7 linked regions of the Homo sapiens genome follow. The protein of the gene in region 3 interacts with the protein of the main gene of each other region in a pairwise test. Each region holds a gene or a part of one and is shown on either strand. Other genes may lie near its edges.

Region 1 (3,500 bases), on a different chromosome or scaffold from region 3:
TGCTCAAGGTCACTGAGCAAGGCTATGGCAACACACGGTCCAATTGGCTCAGAGCTTCGTTGTCAGGAAGATGCCATCATTCTATTTGCATTCATCTTCACTGAGTGCTTGCTAGGGAGAGGGCCTTGGAGAGGGAAAGGCCAGACTGAGTGTTACCTGCTGCCAGCGTCCTTACCTGTGCAAAGAGTACTACGAGGCTATCATTGTCAGGGAATCCGAGATGCTTGGAGTAAAAGTGATGGAGAGCAGCTATGTCACTCTGAATCAAATCCTTCTTCTCATTGTCTAACTTATCCAGATCTGTGGATAAATAATCCATTATTCACCCAGTAGAAAGCGTGGGATTTCTAGCTACATCCTATTTTTGCTGTAAATGATACAGAGGAAAGGAACGGGCGAAAAAAAAAAAACCCAAAACTAACATGTTGAACCCCCAGAGAACATTCTTCCCCATTACTTGGTTTAACTGACAAACCCTAAGGAAAGAAAGCAAGCCATTTCTTCCTTCTCTCCCTCTGATGACTAGAAGTCACTTGGGACGTGAGATTTCGACTGACTGTTAGCAATGAGGTCAGGGATGGGTAGCAATGACTCATAACCAGCCTCAGCCTAGTCAAGGGCCCCCCAATTGGCCCGGGAATCTGGGCCGTGGTCAAACAACTGGACAACCCCTGATTTCACGGCTTTCAGTAAGAACATCAGCTATTTAGAGGACGCAATTCAGCAAAGATCCAAAAGTATTCAGCATGCCAAGAGGGCCAGCAGGAGGTAGCTCAGGGTGCAATAATTCATTTTGGGAGCTCCTACCTCCTTTAATTATTTCCTAACAATCCTGTCAACTCAGAAGAAAAAAGCTAAAAGTGCTTTTCGAAACAGCACAAGAGTAAAAATAAAAACTAGTAATCAAAGAAATCACTACTCCTCTGAGCACAAACTAGCCCGTCCTCGCTTCAATCCTGCCCAACCCATGTGAAATCTGTGGCTGAGAGAACTGCGCGGCTGGTCACAGAAAGACTTACGTGATTCAAACTCCTTCACAGCTAACAATTTTTCCGAAGGTGTTCTCTCTGGGTGGATTTTCTAGCAATTGGGGAAGAAATCACACAGATACAGATTTTTTAACAACCAGTGTAATAAAGTGGCACTTTCACTTTTACATCAACATAAAGAAAAAGTAACAATTCTTAAGGAAGTAAAACAAGCTACTCAAGGACTCCACCACTAGGGCTCTCCACCAGCCAAATCCAAAGACTCTTCTAAAGCGCTTTTTTAAATGTCTACCGTGTACCTAACACCCTGATAATACTATGCACACAGTAGGCTCAGAAATACCTGTTACGGGAAAGAACAGGGCCGGAAAACAACTTTTTAGGGTCCTTACTTAAAAGGACTGGGTCTACAGACAAACCATCCTATTTATTATTTCTCCTTCTAAAAAGGAACAAAATCAAACCCCCCATCCATTTTACACTTTCTTTAAGCATAGGCTAAAATGATCTCAAATTCTGTGTTTCAAAAAGAACACTTTTGGTTGTATCTGTGAGCCCAGATTCACTTTAAACGCGTTGCTGGCTTTGTTCTAGACACCCCAAGAGGAGCTAACAATAGTAAACCCGCTAGGCTTTGAGAACATGAATAAACTTGGTGTTGACAAGAGTTCAAAGGCAGAGCTCAGGAGCTGGCCCAAGGCCATGTCTTTGTAATGTGGCTATTCAATTTGGGGATACAGGTGGTCTAGCAGGGCACGCTCACCTCCCTAGTTAACATGTTAAGCCTCCCCTTGGTAGTTTGGTAGCCTGTCTCCCCTAATCCTTTGCAAGCTACTAGAATACAAATGGTCTGTTTTTTTAATCATCAAGTCCTATAGAGATGAAAAGATGGGCAGGTAACTTTCATTTAATACACTATTAGTAGTAGTAGTAATTATAATAAAACTTGAATGAAGCTTGTATAAACTCATCTTTGCATTCAGACTACCCTCCTGGTGCCGAAATATTTCAATAGTTCTTTTTTGGAGCAGAAATCTTCCATTCACGGGATGCATTTTTATAAGATTTATAAGTCATCTCGCTTGGGAAAGCTTTTCATTCAGGAAAGTCTACCAGCCTCTTCTGAATTCTTAACATATCACTATAAATATCATCAATAATTCAGGGGAACAAAATAATAAAACACCAGCTTGGCCACCCAATCCTCCCAAGATGTGCGGAGATCCCATCTGATGACTTACTGACTCTGATACCTCACACCCAGTCATCCTATTCCCTCTGACTTATTCAGCCCAAATACTCTGCATAAATTTAAAAATAACTGTTATTAAGGATCCGAAAGTTAACCTCCTGCAGGGAAACAATTCTGATGTTTTGGTCTCACTCTACAGGCAACCCATGAATGGCCTTTGTTACTCTCGGCTGGCTGGCGAGGTAGCATTTCGGCAAGCACCTGACCCAAGCTGAACATAGCTGAAGGATGACCTCAGAGTTTTGAAATGTTCTACTTCTGTTTACACAGCCCAGGATCCTAACTTGGTCTGGGGACAGATACATGCTAATCATTTCCATCACATTTGGCTTAGATTAAAAAATAGAAAAATTTTAAGGGTGGAGGAGGGCTGGTAGGTATACAGGAGAAGTGGATGAAATTTCAGTTTGTTTTTTTTTTTCATTTTTAGAGACAGAGTCTCATTTACTTTGTTGCTCAGGCTGGATGGAGTATGGTGGCACAATCACAGCTCACTGCAGCCTTGAAGTTCCGGGTTCCAGTAATTCTCCTGCCTCAGCCTCCAGAATAGCTGGGACCACAGGTGTATACCACCACACCTGGGAAATTTTTTTAATTTTTAAAATTTATTATAGAGAATGGGTCTCACTTTGTTGCCAAGGCTGGTCTCGAACTCCTGGATTCAAACAATCCTTCTGCCTTGGCCTCCCAAAGTGCTAAGATTACAGGTATGAGCCACTATGCCCAGCCAAAATTTCAGCTTTAAAAGATTTATAGTCCAGAGGCCCTGCCACCAACTTCTCTGACAGCACTGAGGAGCAAGACCTCCACAGCCTGGACATATGCCTTCTAAGCCCCACACTGCCTATTTCATTGGATCACAAGGACAAGTTCTATGGCATTTTCCTGTCCTCTTTTTAGTTTGGCCCTTCGAAGATTAGGTGTCTAATTATTATGCAATCAGCAAGAATGAACCAGACCAGGCGGAGAACAGTCAGTACGGTGGCTAAAGCAATTTCATCTTGGATGCTGATATACCATGTTGATTTCTGGTTAACTCCTGCTCTGGGAATGCTTCTAAGATTTCTACTTTGTCTATGGCTACCTTAAATCCTGCCTTAGGTCAATACAATCTTGAGCACAAATCTTGCTCTCAGGCAGATTTGCATAGCATCCTTGCCTTTCCTTGTAACTGCTGTACACATTTCTTCCCTATGGTATATAAGCCCTGGCTCTGGTGGGTAATGGTGCAGGGATCCACCATCTTGTCTTGCTGCCGC
Region 2 (3,500 bases), on a different chromosome or scaffold from region 3:
AGAGACTAGTCACTAGAGAAGTGTTACCTTGGTTGAACTTTGAAGTCTATTGTGGCCCAGGAGCCTTTTCATTTTAAACACTTCTTTTTTTTTTTTTTGGAAACAGAGTCTGGCTCTGTTGTCCAGGCTGGAGTGCGGTGGCGTGATCTCGGCCCACCACAACCTCTGCCTCCTGGGTTCAAGCGATTCTCCTGCCTGAGCCTCCTGAGTAGCTGGGACTACAGGTGCATGCCACTACGCCCGGCTAATTTTTGTATTTTTAGTAGAAATGTGGTTTCACTATGTGGGCCAGGCTGGTCTTGAACTCCTGACCTCGTGATCTGACTGCCTTGTGCCTCCCAAAGTGCTGGGATTACAGGCGTGAGCCACCACCGCACCCAGCCTTTTTTTTTTTTTTTTTTGAGATAGAGTCTTGCTTTGTCGCCCAGGCTGGAGTGCAATGGCATGATCTTGGCTCACTGCAATTTCCACCTCCCGGGTTCAAGCAATTCTCCTGCCTCAGCTGCCCAAGTAGCTGGGATTACAGGCGCCTGCCACCATGCCTGGCTAATTTTTGTATTTTTAGTGGAGATGGGGTTTCACCATGTTGGCCAGGCTGGTCTTGAACTCCTGACCTCAGGTAATCCACCTACCTTGGCCTCCCAAAGTGCTGGGATAACAGGCGTGAGCCACCGTGCCCAGCCTTAAACATATATATATATATCTCCAGACTTAAACATATATATATGTGTGTGTATATATATATATGTGTGTGTATATATGTGTGTGTGTGTGTGTGTGTGTGTGTGTGTGTGTTTTTTTTTTTTTTTTTTTTTTTTTTTTTGAGACGGAGTTTCGCTCTTGTTGCCCAGGCTGGAGTGCAATGGCACGATCTCGGCTCACCACAACCTCCACCTCCTGGGTTCAAGTGATTTTCTTGCCTCAGCCTCCCGAGTAGCTGGGATTACAGGCATGCGCCACCATGCCTGGCTAATTTTGTATTTTTAGTAGAGACGGGGTTTCTCCACGTTGGTCAGGCTGGTCTCGAACTCCCGACCTCAGGTGATCCACCCGCCTCGGTCTCCCAAAGTGCTGGGATTACAGGCATGAGCCGCCGCGCCCAGCCTAAACATATTTTTTATTGGGTATTCTCAGCTGGGAAATGGAAGGATTCATCAAAGATGTGTTCATCAAGGAGAGGCACAACAGTACAGAAAGCCAATGGCTTCTTTTAGTTTTACTTTTGCAATCCTAAATGTTTAAGTTCTTTGCAAGGAAGGCAGTAGTTGAATAAAATATAAGTTGTCAACACCATAGAAATCCCAGTAAAGCTGTAATTCTTTACATTGAAATACTTGGTATAATATCAAGTATAACCTCTTTGAAAAGTTCCAAAGATGCTTTTAGGGCTGAAATCCAACATTAGTATCTAGGTTGGTAGCTCCCTTAATTAGGCATGTATGTGGTTCTTATCTTTAGCAGCATAGCTGACACCATCTTAGAGTCCTGTGAGTCTGCATGGGGACTGTCCTTGGAGATTTTTTAATAACTTTGAGAACTAACCACTGTCTGTAATCTTTCATAGTTTTATTGAACAGATTTTTATTTGGCATTTACTTTGTACCAGGTTGTATTATTTCTAAGAACTTGAAAAATATTAATCTGTTTAAATGTATAACATCCCAGTACCAATCCAGTGAGATTGGTACTATTATTATCCCCGTATTGTAGGTAAAGAAACCAAGACACAGAAGGTTAAATAGGTTGCAAAAAAGGCTATATAGCTAGCTTGAATGAGAAAAATCACTTTACTTAAAACTGTGCTGTGAGTTTGGAGGGATAGTGGAATCTCTTAAGTCCCATAATGTTTTTTCTTTCTATTTAAGGTTTTGAAGTACAGGAAGAAGGTTATCTGGCAAAAATCCTGGTCCCTGAAGGCACAAGAGATGTCCCTCTAGGAACCCCACTCTGTATCATTGTAGAAAAAGAGGCAGATATATCAGCATTTGCTGACTATAGGCCAACCGAAGTAACAGATTTAAAACCACAAGTGCCACCACCTACCCCACCCCCGGTAGGTATGCTTCTAGAATTCAGGAAACACTTACCTTGTTCATCTCTAAATTAAGGAGTTTTGATTAGATGATATCCTAGGTTCCTTCCACCTCCAAGATTCTATGACTGAGGAGGGAGATAGTTTATTAACATTTGTGGAGACCTATAGTGTTTGTTGTACTGCACTGTTCACCTAATGGTTGATAGTTTGGGCCTTGTAGCTTTTTTCTTCCTGCTATCTAGAGTCCTGCTGAGAACAAAGCTGAGTGACATGTTCTCTTTCTGCTTTAGATACAGATACCATGCTTGTGGAAAGTAAGGCTTCATTGCCCCACCCTTTTTTTTTTTTTTTAAGAGACAAGGTCTCACCCTGTTGCTGAGGCTGGAGTGCAGTGGTGCAATCATAGCTCACTTCATTGCCCATTTATTATTAAATATACTGAATAATCTCTGTCACTTGAAATCCTCTTGTTATTGACTTAGTAGGTCAAGCATATATTTGTGATACAGTGGAACCTTGACATGACTTGTTTTGCCTAGAATTTATTATATCACCAAATACTTGATACACTATATAACTATAACCTGAACTTGTATAACTCCAACCAGAGATAACACTGACAGTGAAGCTTCAGTGATTCTCACAGATGCTAGAATCATGTGAGTTTAAACTAGGTAAACATTTCTATAAGAGAAAAGTTGATTTCTGACTACTGTACATTTGTGGGAAGCTGGCAAGTAGCATTGTTGTTGGATTTCTTTTGTTGTTGTTGTTGAGACGGAGTCTTGCTCCGTCACCCAGGCTGGCGTGCAGTGGCGTGATCTTGGCTCACTGCAGCCTATGCCTCCCGGGTTCAAGCAATTCTCCTGCCTCGACCTCCCGAGTAGCTGGGATTACAGGTGTTAGCCACCATGCCCGGCTAATTTTTTTATTTTTAGTAGAGAAGGGGTTTCACCGTGTTGGCCAGGCTGGTCACGAACTCCTGACCTCAGGTGATCCACCCACCTCGGCCTCCCAAAGTGCTGGGATTACAGGTGTGAGCCACCACACCTGGCCGTATTTCTTAAGATACTTTTCAACATGGGGCCTTACAGCATAATTTTATATTTTGAAATTAGCTGGCTGGGTGTGGTGGCTCATGCCAGTAATCCCAGCACTTTGGGAGGCTGAGGCAGGTGGATCGCTTGAGGTCAGGAGTTCAAGACCAGCCTGGCCAACATGGTGAAACCCCATCTCTACTGAAAATACAAAAAATTAGCTGGGCGTGGTGGTGCGTGCCTTTAATCCCAGCTACTTGGGAGGCTGAGGCAGGAGAATTGCTTGAACCCAGGAGGCGGAGGTTGCAGTGAGCCAAGTTTGCGCCACTGCACTCCAGCCTGGGTGACAGAGCAAGACTCTGTCTCAAATAAAAAGAAAAAAAAAAAAGAAGTTAGGATAATTAAAAATAAAAATCATGTTGGTGATG
Region 3 (3,500 bases):
GTGTTAGCTTTGTTTTGCCTGCAAACCTCTGATTACTGTCAAATTGAATTAGATGTCTCCCTTTGCTGATCACTGATTGACTTTTCCTTAATTTCCCATTCATTTTTTTTCCCCATTTCAGTTGTTATAGATGAAGTCGATTAAATGGTTTTGTGTAATCAAGAACGGCATTCCATTTCAGTATTATCAACTTGTAAGTATGGAGCTTGTAAGTCAGGGGGTGGATGAAAACAAGCTGATAATGAGCTGGTATTTGAAAATTGAGAGGGAGCTTAATAGGAAACCTTCTCCAAGGTGAGGTAGCTTAAGGGCTCAGGGTTTTCATGGAGGGAACCTTGATGGCAGAACTTGGGAATCAAGGTGTCAGATGATGGTAGGGCACACACCAGGGGTGTTAGTTTCCTGCAGCTGCTGTAACAAATGACCACAAACTTGGTGGCTTAAAACAACAGAAAGTGATTCCCTCACAGTCTGGAGGCTGGAAGTCCAAAATCAGTCTCATTGGAGATCAAGGTGTCAGTAGGGCCACGCTTCCTCCAGAGACCTAAGGGGAGACTTGGACTTTGCTTCTTCTCCCAGCCCCTGGTGGCTGCCATGGGCATCTCCTGGGCTTGTGGCCATGTTATTCTCTTGTCTCCGTCTTCACTTTGCTTTCTTCTCTGCTTGTCCATCTGATCCCCTCCGTCTTTTAAAGACATTTTTGATGGCATTTAGGACTCACCCAGTTAATCCAGGACAGCCTCCCCATCTGAAGACCATTAACTTCATCATGTCTGCAGAGTCCCATCCCCCTAAAGATGACATTTTCAGGTTCCAGGGATTAGGATGTGGGCCTATCTTTGGGAGGCCATTTTTCGACTTACCACACTGGGCCTGCTTCACGGAAGGCCTTGGTACGACGGCCCAAGGCCTGGGCTGGACTGAGTGGTATGAGGTTGAGGGGCTGGACTGAGCGGTATGAGGAGGAGGGGCTGGACTGAGCGGTATGAGGAGGAGGGGCTGGACTGAGCGGTATGAGGAGGAGGGGCTGGACTGAGCGGTATGAGGATGAGGGGCTGGACTGAGCGGTATGAGGAGGAGGGGCTGGACTGAGCGGTATGAGGATGAGGGGCTGGACTGAGCGGTATGAGGAGGAGGGGCTGGACTGAGCGGTATGAGGTTGAGGGGCTGGACTGAGCGGTATGAGGAGGAGGGGCTGGAATGAGTGGTATGAGGATGAGGGGCTGGATGGGGTTTCCAGGGGGTATTTCCCCAGCACCATAGATCACCTCATTGCCTTGTCCTTTCACCTTCAGGAAAGGGAGGAGGATGGGCTAGAGAAAGAGCAAGAAGTGAGAGAGTGGGGAGAAATGCTTGGAAATACTGCATTTGCACAGAAGTTGGAAGGTACAGGAAGAACTGCCTAAAGAAAAGCCTAGCATGCACCCTTAAGCCTGGCATGTGGGAACCAACACCAATTGTTAGGATGACTGTAATCGTACGGCTGTGATAATGAGGTCTAGATTCATGGAAAGAGCCACCTGGGCTGTCCTTTCTGTTCAGAGTGGTCTGCAGTGTAGACACTTGCTAACCAATTGTGGAGCTTCATAGGGTCCTATTTTGACATAGCTCATGGAGGTGCAAAACCCTGATATGGGCTGGTTCAGCCCTGGGAGTGGAGCCTGAGAGGGAGTTCGTGAAGACTCTGCTCTCCGTGGGTCTCATGGACGTGCGGGAGCAGAGGGGACGGTGGAGTCAATGAGGAATTGTCAGAGGCTCCTGAGACTACGCTGAAGGGCTAGAGTGAGGAGGAGAGAGAGGCTGCCGGTGAAAGGTGGCGTCATTCCCCACTGCCAAGGAGGGTCTCTCCATGCCTGGAAATGCGTCCCAAAGGGCATCAGATAGATTCCTTATATTTTCAGGGAAGCTATTTGTTCCTTGTGGCTGCTATAACAAATTACCACTCTGGTGGCTTAAAGTAACAAATTGATTCTCTCACAGTTCTGGAGGCCAGAAGTCTTAAAAAGTATTGGCAGGGCCACGCTCCCTCCAGAGACTCTAGGGGAGGATCCTTCCCTGCCTCTTCTGGCTTCCAGTGGCAGCCAACATTCCTTGGCTTGTCGCCCCTCACCCCAATGTCTGCCTCCTTCCTCCTGTGGCTGCCCCCTCTGCTTATTTGTGTGAAAACTCCTTCTTTCTCTATTTTATAAGGACACTTATGAGGACATTTAGGGCCTACCCAGGTAATCTAGGCTAATCTCATCTCAGAATTCTTCACTTAATAACTTCTGCAAAGACCCTTTTTCCAAATAAAGTCACATGATCCAGAGATTAGGCCATTATTCAACCTGGTACAGGCAATTGAAGAACTCAATAAGGTATCTTAACTATAATTGTGTACTCTGTTAAAAAGGCAGATTGTATTACTGCTGGGCCTTTAGACTTGTTTGTTTACAGTACTTGTAAGAATTTCATTGCCAGAGGGTGTAATTTTTTAGATACTGCCACACGGAGTGGAGCAAAGACAATGCCTAATTGTACTTTTCAGCATTCTTTTTTCTCCACCTCCCCAAGAGGATGGATATGAAATATGTGTGTGTCTATGTGTTTTTGGAGGGTAACAGTTAACAAAGCTGTTAGTTTAGCATCCCTTGAACTACTTGGGGCCAGACACAGCCAGAGTGTAACTTTACCTCCTGGGGGCTGAGAGCATCAGCCCGAGCTGACTTGAGGTAGTGCAGGCCCCATGCTGTGAGGTGTGGATGGCAGGGGCTCTTCTAGCCTGTCTGGTCCCCTTGGGGGCTGATTGACTCTTTGTTACTCCCATCTTTGGATTAAGGGCCTGAACCTCCCTATTAAAATGAGACTCTGGGCTGGGCACGGTGGCTCATTCCTATAATCCCCGCACTTGGGGAGGCCAAGGTGGGCGGATCACTTGAGGCCAGGAGTTTGAGACTAGCCTGGCCAACATGGCCAAACCCTGTCTCTACTAAAAATACAAAAATTAGCTGGATGTGGTGGCGGGTGCCTGTAATCCCAGCTACTCAGGAGGCTGAGGCAGGAGAATTGCTTGAACCCGGGAGGCAGAGGTTGCAGGGAGCCGCCAAGATTGTGCCACTGCATTCCAGCCTGGGCCACAGAGCGAGATTCCATCTCAAAAAAAAAAAAAAAAAAAAAAAAAAAAGAAGGAGACACTGCTCTATAGAGGAGATAATACATTATGCTGTTTATAGCCATCTTTGCTTTGGTGATTCCATTGGTTAGTCACTATTAGTCACTTGCTGTTTATGAAGCGCTGTGTGTCGTGAAGGGGGAGTGGTCCCTGCATTAAGCCATGACTTACATCTTACTGCAGATGCTGTTGTATAGGGACGTAGGGAAGGAAGGTGCGGGGGAGTCTCTCTGGTAGGGAGGTTAGCCTCTGAAGGACCTGGGGTTGGGGGCTTGAGTGGGGGAAGGGGGTGGCTGGAGTACCTGGAGAGTGATAGAATGCATGTCCCAGGGAGTGACAAGACATGCCA
Region 4 (3,500 bases), on a different chromosome or scaffold from region 3:
TCTCGGGTTCAAGCGATTCTTCTGCCTCAGCCTCCTGAGTAGCTGGGATTACAGGCGCCCACCAACAGGCCCGGCTAATTTTTGTATTTTTAGTAGAGATGGGGTTTCACCATGTTGGCCAGACTGGTCTCAAACTCCCGACCTCAGGTGATCTGCCTGCCTTGGCCTCCCAAAGTGCTGGGATTACAGGCGTGAGCCACTGCACCTGGCTTCCTTCTTGAGTTTCACTACACCAGGGACAGCACAAACATGCCTCCTCTTTACTGCCCTGACCTGGGGACTCACCCCTCTCCTGGTGAGTGATTTGGGACAGGCCACTCCAAAGCCAGGTACACCCATCCTGTAACACGGCTTCCCTCCTGTGGCTTCTGTGGCTCTACTCCTGACCCTCTCTCCATCACCCAAGGCTCCATCTCCCCCCTCACCGCAGACACAGGGGTCCCCAAAGTTCTTCCCTTCATTCGTCTTGGCCCTATCACAAATCCCACTCACCATCTCAGGGCCAGCTCCGAGGCGGCCGTTTTTTCTGACTTTCCTACCTCCAACTGGACTCAGGCTCCCATGGCTAGCTCTGGGCAGGACACAGCCACCATGGATAGCCCATGTCCCCTCCAGCTCAACACAGATGAGCATGTCTCCTCCCCAACATGACCCCCAATTCCATCAGAGTCAACAAACCACCAACTCCCCAGTGCCCAGGTTAGAAAACCAGATGGCTTCAGGTTCCACCCTGCCATTCGCCAGTGCCCATGCCCTCCCCGAAGCCCCTGTCTTTTTCTTTCTTCCTTTCTTTCTTTTTTTTGAGATGGGATTTCACTCTGTCACCCAGGCTGGCTTGCAGTGGTGTGATCATAGCTCACTGCAACCTCCACCTCCCAGGCTCAAGCAACCCTCCCATGTCAGCGCCCTTGAGTAGCTGGGACTACAGGCACCACCACCATGCTCAGCTAATTTTTTTGTAGAGACAAGGTTTCACTATGTTGCCCACACTGGTCTCAAACTCCTGGGCTCAAGAGATCCACCTGCCTCCGCCTCCCAAAGGGCTGGGATTATAGGCATGTGCCACCGCCAGCCCCTGCCTTTCCTACTCTGTGGCGATGTGGAGTGAGAAGGTTTTAGTCCCAGCTCTAGATGTTACAACCTTCAGCGAGGCACTTGATTGCATGGAATCTCTGTTTCTCCCATGCAAACTGGGCACATACAGTCCCTCATAGAGTTATGATGAAGATTTAACAAATTAGCATGAAGAGTGCTCAATGCATGGTAGCCAATATGACAAATACTCACCAAAAACTGTCCCTTCTGCCTGAAATTCTCTCCATCCTCAGTCACTGTCCCAGGTCAGGTCCTATGAGCTCAGACCCTTGAGTTACTGGGACAGTCCCTTCCCTGCCTAGATACCACCACCGGCCCACTGGGATGGCATTCTTCAACAGCATGTCACCCCAGCCCCTCCCTGGCTTTCTGCCGACTCCCTTCTATTTTTTTTTTTTTTTTTTTTTGAGATGGAGTCTCGCTCTGTCTCCCAGGCTGGAGTGCAGTGACGTGATCTCAGCTCACTGCAGCCTCCGCCTCCCAGGTTCAAGTGATTCTCCTTCCTTAGCCTCCCGAGTAGCTTGGATTACAGTCATGTGCCACCATGCCTGGCTAATTTTTGAATATTTAGTAGAGACGGGGGTTTCACCACGTTGGCCAGGCTGGTCTCAAGCTCCTGGGGTCAAGTGATCTGCCTGCCTCGGCCTCCCAAAGTGCTGGGATTACGGGGATGAGCCACCACCCCCATCCTGACTTCTGAAACTCCTTATCTTGGCATTCAAGGCCCTTCACGAATCGGTCTCAACTTTGTTTCTTGTTGGATCCCTCAGCTTATTCTGTTCCTTCCAAGGGAACTGTTCCTGTTCCCTCAGCAGTCCGCACCATCCCACCGCTGTGCAGATGGTTTCCTCTGCCTGTTGAGAGCCCTCTTGCCCCCCGAAGGCCTCTTTCTGAGCACCTGATGCAGAATCCCAGGGCATGCTGTCTGTCTCCTTTCAGCCACACTGAGTGTGTTCATTTCACTCACTGGCTGTGTGACTTTCATCAAGAGAATTAACCTCTCTGTGTCCCAATTTTCTCTCTGGCAAAACAAAGACAGCACTAATATCTAACTATGCAAAGTACTTAGAACAGGGGTTGTCCCTTACTGAATGTTAGAAAACGTTAGACGTTATTCCTAAAAAAGAAAAAACAGGCTGGGCATGGTGGCTTATGCTTGTAATCCCAGCACTTTGGGAGGCTGAGTCAGAAGGATCGCTTGAACCAGTTGGAGCTGGAGGCTACAGTGGGCTATGATCTCACCACTGCACGCCAGCCTGGGTGACACAGCAAGACCCTGTGTAAAAAAAAAGAAAAGAAGAAACAAAAAAACAAACCGAGGCCAGGTGCAGTGGCTCATGCCTGTAATTCCAGCATTTTGGGAGGCTGAGGCGGGCAGATCACTTGAGGTCAGGAGTTCGAGACCAGCCTGGCCAACATGGCAAAACCCTATCTCTACTGAAAATACAAAACTTAGCCGGGCGTGGTGGTGCACACCTGTAATCCCAGCTACTTGGGAGGCTGAAGCAGGAGAATCGCTTGAACCTGGGAGGCGGAGGTTGCAGTGAGGAGGGATCGCGCCACTGCTCCCCAGCCTGGGCGACACAACAAGACTGTCTCAAAAAAACCAAAAACCAAAAAATAAACCAAGGCAGAAGCCTAAAATAAAGTCCTAGTGGTGGATGTCTTGACCCCTGCTGGGCATCCCAGAAGCTTCACCTTCTACCCTTTTATGGAGTTTTCTCCCCTGAACCTTGCTGTTTGGTGACTATGCCTGTAATTCTCTCCCACACCATTTGTTTTTCTTTCTTTCTTTTTTAAAAATTGAGACTGGGTCTCGCTCTATTGCCCAGGCTAGAGTGCAGTGGTGCGATCATAGCTCACTGCAGCCTCCACCTCCCAGGCTCAAGTAACCCTGCCACCTCAGCCTCTTGAGTAGCTGGGACTACAGGCATGCGCCACCACGCCCGGCTAATTTTTTGTATTTTCAGTGGAGACAGGGTGTTGCCATATTGCCCAGGCTTGTCTCGAACTCCTGAACTCAAGTGATCTGCCCACCTCAGCCCCAAAAAGTGATGGGATTATAGGTGTGAGCCACCACGCCCCACCTCCACTCTACTTTTCTACCCAGGAAATCTCACATCCTTTGAGACCCCTGCTCTGGCCCTGCTCTGGCTCAAGGCAGGTAGACCCCTGCTCCTGGCTTCTCAGGATGGTCCTACTGGGTGACCTTCAGGTCCTCATGTACTCTTTATCCTCCGCCACAACCCTGACCCTACTTTCTTCCTACCTGTGGGTGTGTGTCTGGACACTGGGGCTGGTGTGACTGGGTTATGCATGTTCGCAAGCAGCCTGGAAGACACTGAGGGTGGCCTGGTTTCCCTTAAGGCCTGGTTTGTCTTCCCTCCCTGCAAGAGCATGAACAC
Region 5 (3,500 bases), on a different chromosome or scaffold from region 3:
AATATGTGAAGCTGAGTAAGAAAAAAGTAAAAAACCAATTGTTAGGAAATCAGAAGGTCCAATCCTTTAATGAAATTGGCAGTATCTTCTACCTCACAGGATAGAAATACCAAAAAAATTCAAATCATATTGGGCTCAAATGTTCAAAAATATGCCATCATATTTGCAAGGAGTGGGTGGACAGTGATATGACTGAGGAGGGAAGGGAAAGTCAAGTCCACGCGGTTGAGTGGGGGCTGAAGCTGGCTGTGCTTCCTATAGCTCTGGCATGGAGCTAAGTGTTCAGCATGCTTTATTTCTTTGAATCTTCAATATAACCCTAATAACACTATGATTATTAGTTCCATATTACAGAAGGAGAAATAGGGGCTAAGAAAAATATCCTGCCAACAGTTACTAAGCTTCTAAACAGCTGAGCAAGGATGTAAATCAGGGATATCTGAATACATTAGCCCATGCCCCAGTTGATAAGGCAGCAGTAACTGAACTGGAAGCCAACCCTGTATGTTATCAAGATCTACCAGCCATCTACAGCTGGCCTCCTGGGAGGCCTGATACAGGGTATCTGTCAATGATATGGAAGCCTGATAAGCTGCTGGGCTTGAGAGGGAGCAGCCCTGGGCTTGAATTCTGGTTCTGCAACTTAATACCTCTGTATCTCCGGACATGGTGTTTAATCTTTCTGAAGTCCTCATTTCTTCATCTATGCAGGTACAATGTTATACATTCTTATAGAGCAGAATCTCAGAATTCCAAGGAACTCTAAAGATTTGTAAACCACCGAATCCAAGATCAATGCCAGTGAGGCATCTATGAAGGGTAGCGGGAATTCCAGGTAAGGGTGTGGGCTCCGGGGTTATAATATGTGGACTTCTAAATCCTAGTCTTGCTAGTTATTGGCGTATCACGCTGGGTATGTTAACTCAATTTCTATACCAGCCTCCTGATTTCTAAAATAGAGATGAAAATGCTGCAGTTGCTAATAACAACCACATCTACTTCACTGGCATGTTGTGAACATTAAATAAAATGTTTAGCAAAAATGCTTGCATGGAGTGAACATTAAATGCATTTTTTTTTTTTGAGACAGAGTCTCACTCTCACCCAGGCTGGAGTGCAGTGGCGCAATCTTGGCTCAATGTAAGCTCAGCTTTCTGGGTTCACGCCATTCTCCTGCCTCAGCCTCCCGAGTAGCCGGGACTGCAGGAGCCCGCCACCACACCTGGCTGATTTTTGTATTTTTTAGTAGAGACGGGGTTTCACTGTGTTAGCCAGGATGGTCTCGATCTCCTGACCTTGTGATCTGCCCGCCTTGGTCTCCCCACTAAATGCATTTTTAAAGGAACTCTTAGAGGAGAAAATTATGCTCTAGCTCAGAATATGAGAGAAGAAATCTTGTGGTTTAAGAGAGAATTGGCTTATGACAAATAGATACAGGGGAAAATACACTGATAGGCTATTTCAGCCCAGTGTATAAGTCATCTTCTTCAAAAGTATCAAAAACACTGTTCATCCTCAGTTCTTGTATTGAAGATTTTTTTTCTTTTTTTTTTTGAGATGGAGTTTCACTCTTGTCGCCCAGGCTGGAGTGCAATGGTGTGATCTCAGCTCACTGCAACCTCCACCTCCCAGGTTCAAGTGATTCTCCTGCCTCAGCCTCCCGAGTAGCTGGGATTACAGGAGCCCACCACCACGCCTGGCTAATGTCTGTATTTTTAGTATAGATGGGGTTTCGCCACGTTGACCAGGCTGGTCTCAAACTCCTGACCTCAGGTGATCCGCCTGCCTTGGCCTCCCAAAGTGCTGGGATTACAGGCATGAGCCACCGCACCCGGCCTCTATTGAAGATATTAATGTAAAATCATAATGCTTAGAAAATGTCTTATTCATGTTATCTAAAAAAAAAAAAAAAAAAAAAGAAGAAGAAGAAAAGCATCATGTTTTTTAGAGGATTTCCTTTTGCTGCTTCCCTTGGAGATGAGTGTTCTAGAAGACAAACCTAGTATATGGGGATTGGCCTTCATGGATTTTGAGAACCTCCAAGGGTTCACCCATTTCCAGAAGAAAGGAAACACACATTTATGGAAGACCCATGACATGCTTATGAGCTCATTTGACATGGAGTGGGTTTCCCACACTTCCTTTCCCGTGGAATACTCTGTAGGTTCCACCACAAGTGAACAGTCAAGGCAGGTGCCTTACAAGCAGGTGGCTGGCTCTCGAATCAGGGAAGGTTGGGGGTTTGCTGCTTACCTGAGTTGATGGGAGAATCGTAGCGACTGGCTAACAGAGATGACCTTTCCCGGCTCTCTTTCTCCATCTCTTCTTTCAAGATCAACTGTCCCAGGCCTGAGTTAAGCTATTCACAGAAAAAAGGAAAAAAAAAAAAAAAAGAAAGCAAAGCTTGCAATTACTTTCATGGAGCTGCAGTTTCTTTGTAGCAGATCCCACAAGAAGTTTCTCTTGCTGGAGGGCCTGAATGCATGTGGCCCCAGAGCCTGGTAGTTCCTGAAGAGGTAGGTCAAGTTTGGGACCCTAAACCCTCTTAGCCCTTTCAGTTTCAAAGCTCCATTTCCCTAAGTCAGGCTCTGTGTTAGAAGAACGTTTTCCTTCCTCTGCTTTCCCTAAAGAGCCAGGAGACCTCAGAAGGCATGTGTGAGTGTGTGTGGATTTTTGATGTGGGAAGGGAAGACTGGGGCTGGTATCCTTTAAAAAGAAATTGCCTTGATTTGTTTAAAAACAAGAAATAAAGGTAATACATGCTAATTTTACAGATTTTGGAAAATCTAGAAGAAAAGAAGAGTAACCCATAATATGTCACTCAGAAATAACACTATCTTTTGATTTATATCTATCTAGTATTTTTGTATACACACATATAAAACTGAGATCATACTATAAATGCAACTTTGTATCCTTTGACTAATATCACGTGCATTTCCTATATGCTTAGAAAACATCATTTGAAAGGATTCAGCAGCCTCTTGACTGATAACAGACTGTCCTTCTGGGCTGCTGCAGGCCCTTGCTACAGGAAGGAGGGTATGAAGAGGACCCCTTCATGGTGGCCATTCCTTTCATTCCTTTTCTCCTGGCCCACATCCTGGGAAAAGACTTGGAGAAATGTTCAATCCCACAGTCATTCCTTCAGCAGAACTGCATGAGGGAAGGAAGGTGTGGCACTACCTGGGTGGATACCACCTTGCTCTGCCTGGCCCTCCAGCAGCCTTTCAACACATGCACTGCACACATGCCCCCATGTGGTCTCTCTTTCCTTCCCACAACAACCCAAACCTTCCACACCCCTCTGACCTCCAGCACCAATGCCATCTCCTCTAGAGCCCAGCAGGTATTCTGCCATATTCTAGTTACTATTAACAGACACCTGTCTTGCCTTGCCTGCCAGATTTCAAGCCCCTTGAAGACTGGGACCACCTCTTGCCTATCTAGATGGTTTATACATAGTAGTCATTCAAAAAATATAGATCTTATGTAACTAG
Region 6 (3,500 bases), on a different chromosome or scaffold from region 3:
GCCACTGGGACCGGCCTCTGTTTTTATAAAGGGTTTCCATTTCTGGGGAAAAGAATGGGACTAAGAGGGCCAGCTCCATAATCAGGTCTTATATCTCTTTTCAAAAGCCTTACCGGCCCGGCGTGGTGACTCACGCCTGTAATCCCAGCACTTTGGGAGGCCGAGGCAGGCAGATCACCTGAGGTCAGGAGTTTGAGACCAACCTGGCCAACATGATGGTGAAACCCCCTCTCCACTAAAAATACAAAAATTAGACAGGTGCCACGGTGTGCACCTGTAATCCCAGTTACTCGGGAGGCTGAGGCATGAGAATCGCTCGAACCTGGGAGACAGAGGTTGCAGTAAGCCAAGATTGCGCCACTGCACTCCAGCCTGGGTAACAGAGCAAGACTCCATCTAAAAAAAAAAAAACCCTTACCAAACATTCAATCTCCTATTACCCCAAGGCACTCACCTCCAATGGTGCTCTCCTGGTACTCATGGAACTGCCCTTTGACAAAACGTAATACCAGGCTTGACTTTCCCACTGCAGATTCTCCCAGCAGGACCAATTTGAACTGGCAAATTTTGCTGGCCTGGGGTTGCCCATTGGGCCTAGCTGTGCTTCTGCTAGTCATGGCCAGATTATCAGAATGGGAAAGGGTGGAGGGAGGGGGATACTGTAAAGGGGGGAGGGGGAAGGGGAGGGGATTTCCAGGCTTCAACACTCCTGCAAGAAAAAAAAGTGAATAAAATTAAACATACGTCCATTGAAGCTGCAATCGCTTTTCAGAGAAGGATAGAACCTCTTCATCTCCTTGCTTCTATGAGGACTTAGCTCTGAGAAGGTCCCAGGCAGCTGATCCTCAGTGGTAAGAGTTGGGAAGAGCAAAATAAGAACTGCTTCTGGAGTCTGCCCTACCACATAATCTCTAACTGCCAAGGGAGCCGAAATAGAGAGACTGAAAACTGAGAGTTTTTAATTCCCCAGTAATTCCCCACCAGGTCTTCAAAGTTTTTTGTTTGAGTCACACAAAGTGATCAACCTTTAGCTGGCCTGAAGAATATCCAGATCCACCCACCGGTACCCTAGATCCCCAGTATCTCCTTGGCATCCTGGTGCTGTGCTCTTCTTTTCCTTTTCTTCTTTTTTTTTGAGACGTCACTCTTGTTGCCCAGGCTGGAGTGCAATGGCACAATCTTGGCTCACCACAACCTCTGCCTCCCGGGTTCAAGCAATTCTCCCACCTCAGTCTCCCGAGTAGCTGGGATTACAGGCATGCACCACCACGCCTGGCTAATTTTGTATTTTTAGTAGAGACGGAGTTTCTCCATGTTGGTCAGACTAGTCTAAGAAGTCCTGACCTCAGGTGATCTGCCCGCCTTGGCCTTCCAAAGTGCTGATATTACAGGCATGAGCCACCGTGCCTGGCCTTCTTTTCATTTTTCCTTAGCTCTTTGTCAAAATGAGAGATTCACTCTAGGGGTGTGGGATAAGAGTCACCACTCCTAAGGGCAGAAGGGTAGTTGCTGCTGTATCCTTTATATATGACCGGTCTCCCTGATAAGACATTTCTAAAGATCTAACCAGGGTCCCATTGCCACAAAATCTATCCTTTCTCATTTTTGGTTGAAGGTAAAGAGAGAAATACAACCAACAGATCACATTCATTATCAACTCTTTGTTTCATTAACAACTCTTTTTTCACTTTGTTTCTGCCATCTTTCCAAATCTGAAAGTCTATCAAGAATCAGTAAGCTTGACCTACTCTCAACTTGCAGCTGTCTTGCTGGTGCCTAGGGATTAGATTACCCTCCACACCAAAGGGGCCTAACAGCTGTAGCCCTCCAAATTAGAGGCAGAGAAAGGTATACCTTCTAAAGACATGCAGAAGTCTCCAGAGGATGGTATAGGGCGTTAAGTCTGCAAGCAATCAGTATTTGATGAAAGAATACACTGAATCAGCTCCTCTATCTTCTAAGAGGGCTAAGAAAGCTGCTGGTGGGGCAGGGAACAGAGAGAAGAGTTGGGACTTTGAGATTCTAATCGTCTAAATCTGAATACATTTCATCATCCTGACTCTGAGCGGAAAGGAACTATGAAATTCAAAGGGAAGTTAGCATAGGCAGAGCATGCAAAAACCTCTCTCCCAAACCTAAGCATTGCTTGAGAGTTGTACTTTGCTTGTTCAAATTACTCTTTCGCTTTTCCAAAGCAGATCCTAGTGACTTCACAGACATCATACTCTATGGCATATGTGGGGAAACATCATTATTTTGTCACCACAATTAGTGGGACTGGAGTTAAACTGGGGTTAAAAATTTTCAGTAACCCCACTTACTAGATCGTAAAGACAGAAAATCATACAGGAGGCAATTCAGAGGAATAAAGGCTCTGGAGTCCAATTCTCCACGTTTGTTTTTCAGCTCTACTTACTAGCTATGAACCTTGAGCAAGTCACTAAATATATGTGTGCATTCATTTCCTCATCTGTAAAATGAGATAATAGCCTTATAAGCACCTACTTCATAAGGGTGTTGTAAGGATTAAATGAGATAATGCATATAAATAACTAAAGTATTTTAAGTATTTGATAGATACTAAGTGCTAAATAAATATTAAGCTACTAATCATTACTAATATGATATAAAGAGAATTTCTCTACCTCTCTAAGCCTTACCTTCTACCTTTGTAAAATGGAAAAAATACCATCCTCATAGCTACAAATAATAAGTGAAAGATGTGTTTAGCATAGTGCTAATAGCTATTAAAATATATCTCAATATTAGTTGTTATCAATATATTCCTAAAAAGCAGCCACAGCCTGGGTGCAGTAGCTCATACCTATAATCCCAGCACTTTGGGAGGCTGAGGTGGATCACCTGAGGTCAGAAGTTCGAGCCCTGCCTGGCCAACATGGTGAAACCCCGTCTCCACTAAAAATACAAAAAAAATTAGCTGGGTGTGGTGGTGCATACCTGTAATCCCAGCTACTCCAGAGGCTGAGGCAGGAGAATCGCTTAAACCCAGAAGGTAGAGGGTGCACTGAGCTGATGCGCCACTGTGCTCCAGCCTGGGTGACAGAGCGAGACTCCGTCTCAAAAAATAAAAGGCGGGCACAGTGGCTCACGCCTGTAATCCCAGCACTTTGGGAGGCAAAGGCAGGCAGATCAGGAGGTCAGGAGTTTGAGACAAGCCTGGCAAACATGGTGAAACCCCGTCTCTACTAAAAATACAAAAATTAGCTGGGCGTGGTGGCGCGTGCCTGTAGTCCCAGCTACTTGGGAGGTTGAGGCAGGTGAACTGCTTGAACTTGTGAGGTGGAGGTTGCAGTGAGCTGAGATTGCACCACTGTACTCCAGCCTGGCGACAGAGCAACAGCGAGACTCAGTCTAAAAAAAAAAAAAAAAAATTAGCCGGGTGTGGTTGGTGGCCGGCATTTGTAATCCTACTCGGGAGGCTGAGGCAGAACTGCTTAAACCCGGGAGGCGGAGGTTGCAGTGAGCCGAGATCGTGCCAC
Region 7 (3,500 bases), on a different chromosome or scaffold from region 3:
CAATACTACAATGAGATACCATTTCATACTCACTAGAATTGCAATAATCAAAAACAGGAACAGTAACAGATGTTGGCTAGGACATGGATAAATTGGAAACTTCATGCATTGCAGGTGGGATGTAAAATAGTGCAGCCACTTTGGAAAACAGTCTAGCTGTTCCTCCAAAAGTTAAACATAGAGTTACTATATGATCCAGCAATTCCTTTACTAGATATATTCCCAATAGAATTGGACCTATATATGCATGCTAAAACTTGTACACACACATTCATAGTGATGTTATTCATAAAAGTCAAAAAGTGGAAACAATTCAAATGTCCATTAACTAATGAATGGATAAGCAAAATGTTGCAGATGTATTTAGCCATAAAAAGTAATGAAATATTGATACATACTACTGCGTGGATGAACCTTGGAAGCATTATGCTAAGTGAAAGAGACCAGACACAAAAGGCTACATATTGTGTAATTTCCTTAATATGAAATGTCCAGAATTGGCAAATCCATAGAGACAGAAAATGGTTGCCAGGGACTGGGGAAAGGGAAGGGAGGCATGGAGAGCTGCTAACAGGCCCCATATTTCTTTATGGGATGATGAAAGTGTTCTGGAATTACATACTGGGGATGGTTGCACAACCTTGTGAATATACTAAAAACCACTGCACCTTGAAAAGTTAAATTGTATGGTATATGAATTATAGTTCAAAAACTAATAATTTTGTTAGTATTTAAAATATATAAATAATTTTTAAAGGTTATGAGAAGCCACATATATGTGGTATTATGCTGAGAAAAAGATTAAGCTGAAAATTTATTTTTTATTTATTTATTTTTATTATTTATTTATTTTTTGAGACAGAGTCTGGCTCTGTCGCCTAGGCAGGGGTGTGGTGGCACAATCTCGGCCCACTGCAACCTCCGCCTCCCAGGTTCAGGCCATTCTCCTGCCTCAGCCTCCTGAGTACCTGGGATTACAGGTGCCTGCTATCATGCCCGGCTAATTTTTTTGTATTTTTAGTAGAGACGGGGTTTCACCATATTAGCCAGGATGGTCTCGATCTCCTGACCTCGTGATCTGCCTGCCTCGGCCTCCCAAAGTGCTGGGATTATAGGCGTGAGCCACTGCGCCCAGCCTAAGCTGAAAATTTCTTAGGAATTTGCTGGTGCACTTAAAATGTACAGGCCTTAAGAAAATATGTATTTGCTTTAAAGAAAATACATTTCTTGAATACTAGCAATACTACATTTCTTGGGTAATTAGCCTTCCTCCACCTCCCACCCCTCAAATTGCCTAAAATATTGACTTGATTTGAATGATACTTCCAGGAATCCTTGCCAGATTCTTTAGTAATTATTAGATTTACAGTATATCTATATGGTAATTTCATTTCTCCCATGCTTCTGTCCAAGTCAAAATGTAGAGATGAATCTTGAAATTTTACATTTTTATTTGGGAAGAAAGAATTGCAGTTTGAGGACCAGGTGGTCTTTGGTATGTCCAAAGAACAAAGAGAAGGTTGGAGGTTTATCAAAAGGAGAAGTGTCATGTAGTGCTCTTTGAGAAAGTTCACTGGAACTAGTGAGGTTCTGGGAAGCTGGCAAGTTCTAATTGGTGGGTAGCTGTGGTGGGCACAATTAGTCCTATATTTGCAGCAAGTTATCTCAGCAGCTATAAATAAAATTGGCCTCAGGTTTTAGCAGCCAGTTTCAGCAGCCAGACTTGCAGAGAATTCCATTCTTCAAGCAATGTTATGTGTCCTGAGTGCCTCCCCACCAACACACCCCAGCTTCTTGACTCTGTTTTAGTTGGGTATGACAAGAATGACTCAAATTTGTATGATCAGCTTTCACTCTTCTGTTTCATTTTGCTTTGATATCTTTTTTTCTGTCTTGCATTTTTTCCCTCAACATTTCATTATGAAAATTTTCAAACATGCAGCAAGGTTTAAAGAATTTTATGTTGAATGTTACTCCTGCTACCTAGATTCCACCATTAACCTTTTTCTATAGCTGCTTTATCATGTACTTATCCATTTACCTATCTCTCAATCCATCTATCAAGCCATCTTTTTTTTTAGAGACAGAGTCTCACTCTGTCACCCAGGTTGGAGTGCAGTGGCATGATCTCAGCTCACTGCAACCTCTGCCTCCTGGGTTCAAGCGATTCTCGTGCCTCAGCCTCCCAAATAGCTGGAATTACAGATGTGCACCACCATGCCCGGCTAGTTTTTGTATTTTTAGTAGCGATGGGGTTTCACCATCTTGACCAAGCTGGTCTCAAACTCCTGACCTCAAGTAATCCACCCGTCTTGGCCCTCCAAAGTCCTGAAATTACAGGCATGAGCTACGGCGCCCGGCCTAAGCTGTCTTATTTTATGTATTTTAAGCTAAATTACAGCTATTACATGTTCCCTGAAATAACAGCATGCGTATCAATTATATAGTTCAATATTTGTTTATAGTTCTTACTTTTGAGGTAAAATTTACAAAGCAGAAATCGCAGTGTATATTTGCTGAGTTTTCACAAATGCATACACTTGTGCGACTCAAACCCCTGCCAAGATACAGAACATTTATCATCACCCCAGAAAATTCTCTCATGTCCCTTTCCATTCAATCCCTAACCCCCATCCCCAAGAAGCGATCTCAGTTCTGATGGTTTTCTACCGCAAATTAGCTTTGCCTGTTTGAGAACTTCATATAAAGGAAACAGTGCATAATGTACACTCTATGTAAGGCTTCTTTCACTCAGCATAATTGGGATTCTTTTTTATTGCTGGATAGTACTTCATTGCGTAAGTATGCCACATTTTGCTTGTCCATTTTACTGATGGGTATCTGGTTTGTTTCTGATTTTTCAGTATTATGAATAAAGCTATGACAAAGAAAAGAAAGGTTTAATTTGAAGAATGAGACTCTCCTCTAAATTACCAGGTCCAGAGAGGCGTGGGAGTGAAACAGCAGTCACATCTCCTTTACCTTCTTGGGCTAAGTAATCATGTCTTGAAACTTGCTTGCTATTGCCATAAGTAGCTATAAATTAATCTAACAATGGCACTGTCTGGATACTATAACCCATACAATGTAGCCAATCACTAATCAACGTTATTTTTTTAAACCAGTGAGAATTTCTGACAGACAGCTTTGTATCAGCCCACTCCCTGCCCCACTTTTTTGCCTTTAAAGATCTGCTTGAAACAAAGGCCAAATGGAGCGCCTGTCCAAGGTTACATGAAGTCTGAGTGTTCTGGGCAGGCAGCCGTCCTCATTTTGGCTCAAGTAAACTTTTTAGAATTGTATTTTATGCCTCAATTCCTTTCTTTAGGTCGACAGCTACTATGAACATTCTTATACAAATCTTTTTGTAGACATATGTTTTCATTCCTCTTGAGTAAATATTTTTGAGTGGAATTGCTGGGTGATAAAAGGTACTTTTAATAAAAGTTAATTTTATGAAACTGCAAGACTTTTCTCCCAAAGTGTATCATTTTACACTC

What was found.
Region 1: the proteins of HUNK (region 3) and SMYD2 interact in a two-hybrid assay, tested with the Homo sapiens proteins (one large-scale study listed by BioGRID and IntAct).
Region 2: the proteins of HUNK (region 3) and DLAT interact in a two-hybrid assay, tested with the Homo sapiens proteins (one large-scale study listed by BioGRID and IntAct).
Region 4: the proteins of HUNK (region 3) and LIMK1 interact in a two-hybrid assay, tested with the Homo sapiens proteins (one large-scale study listed by BioGRID and IntAct).
Region 5: the proteins of HUNK (region 3) and ABLIM1 interact in a two-hybrid assay, tested with the Homo sapiens proteins (one large-scale study listed by BioGRID and IntAct).
Region 6: the proteins of HUNK (region 3) and RAB5B interact in a two-hybrid assay, tested with the Homo sapiens proteins (one large-scale study listed by BioGRID and IntAct).
Region 7: the proteins of HUNK (region 3) and IFT88 interact in a two-hybrid assay, tested with the Homo sapiens proteins (one large-scale study listed by BioGRID and IntAct).

What each region holds. Positions count from the first base shown.
Region 1 is NC_000001.11:214,315,659-214,319,158, reverse strand, and holds part of SMYD2 (N-lysine methyltransferase SMYD2), read right to left. Parts: intron 1,081-3,500; coding exon 1,020-1,080; intron 301-1,019; coding exon 176-300; intron 1-175. UniProt on the Homo sapiens protein: Protein-lysine N-methyltransferase that methylates both histones and non-histone proteins, including p53/TP53 and RB1. Specifically trimethylates histone H3 'Lys-4' (H3K4me3) in vivo. The activity requires interaction with HSP90alpha.
Region 2 is NC_000011.10:112,035,408-112,038,907, forward strand, and holds part of DLAT (dihydrolipoyllysine-residue acetyltransferase component of pyruvate dehydrogenase complex, mitochondrial isoform 2 precursor), read left to right. Parts: intron 1-1,865; coding exon 1,866-2,053; intron 2,054-3,500.
Region 3 is NC_000021.9:31,918,020-31,921,519, forward strand, and holds part of HUNK (hormonally up-regulated neu tumor-associated kinase), read left to right. Parts: intron 1-3,500.
Region 4 is NC_000007.14:74,086,804-74,090,303, reverse strand, and holds part of LIMK1 (LIM domain kinase 1), read right to left. Parts: intron 1-3,500. UniProt on the Homo sapiens protein: Serine/threonine-protein kinase that plays an essential role in the regulation of actin filament dynamics. Acts downstream of several Rho family GTPase signal transduction pathways.
Region 5 is NC_000010.11:114,441,776-114,445,275, forward strand, and holds part of ABLIM1 (actin-binding LIM protein 1), read right to left. Parts: intron 2,360-3,500; coding exon 2,254-2,359; intron 12-2,253; coding exon 1-11. UniProt on the Homo sapiens protein: May act as scaffold protein. May play a role in the development of the retina. Has been suggested to play a role in axon guidance.
Region 6 is NC_000012.12:55,984,078-55,987,577, reverse strand, and holds part of RAB5B (ras-related protein Rab-5B), read right to left. Parts: intron 710-3,500; coding exon of another isoform or gene 618-709; coding exon 455-617; intron 1-454. UniProt on the Homo sapiens protein: The small GTPases Rab are key regulators of intracellular membrane trafficking, from the formation of transport vesicles to their fusion with membranes.
Region 7 is NC_000013.11:20,570,157-20,573,656, forward strand, and holds part of IFT88 (intraflagellar transport protein 88 homolog), read left to right. Parts: intron 1-2,864; exon of another isoform or gene 2,865-2,995; intron 2,996-3,500. UniProt on the Homo sapiens protein: Positively regulates primary cilium biogenesis. Also involved in autophagy since it is required for trafficking of ATG16L and the expansion of the autophagic compartment.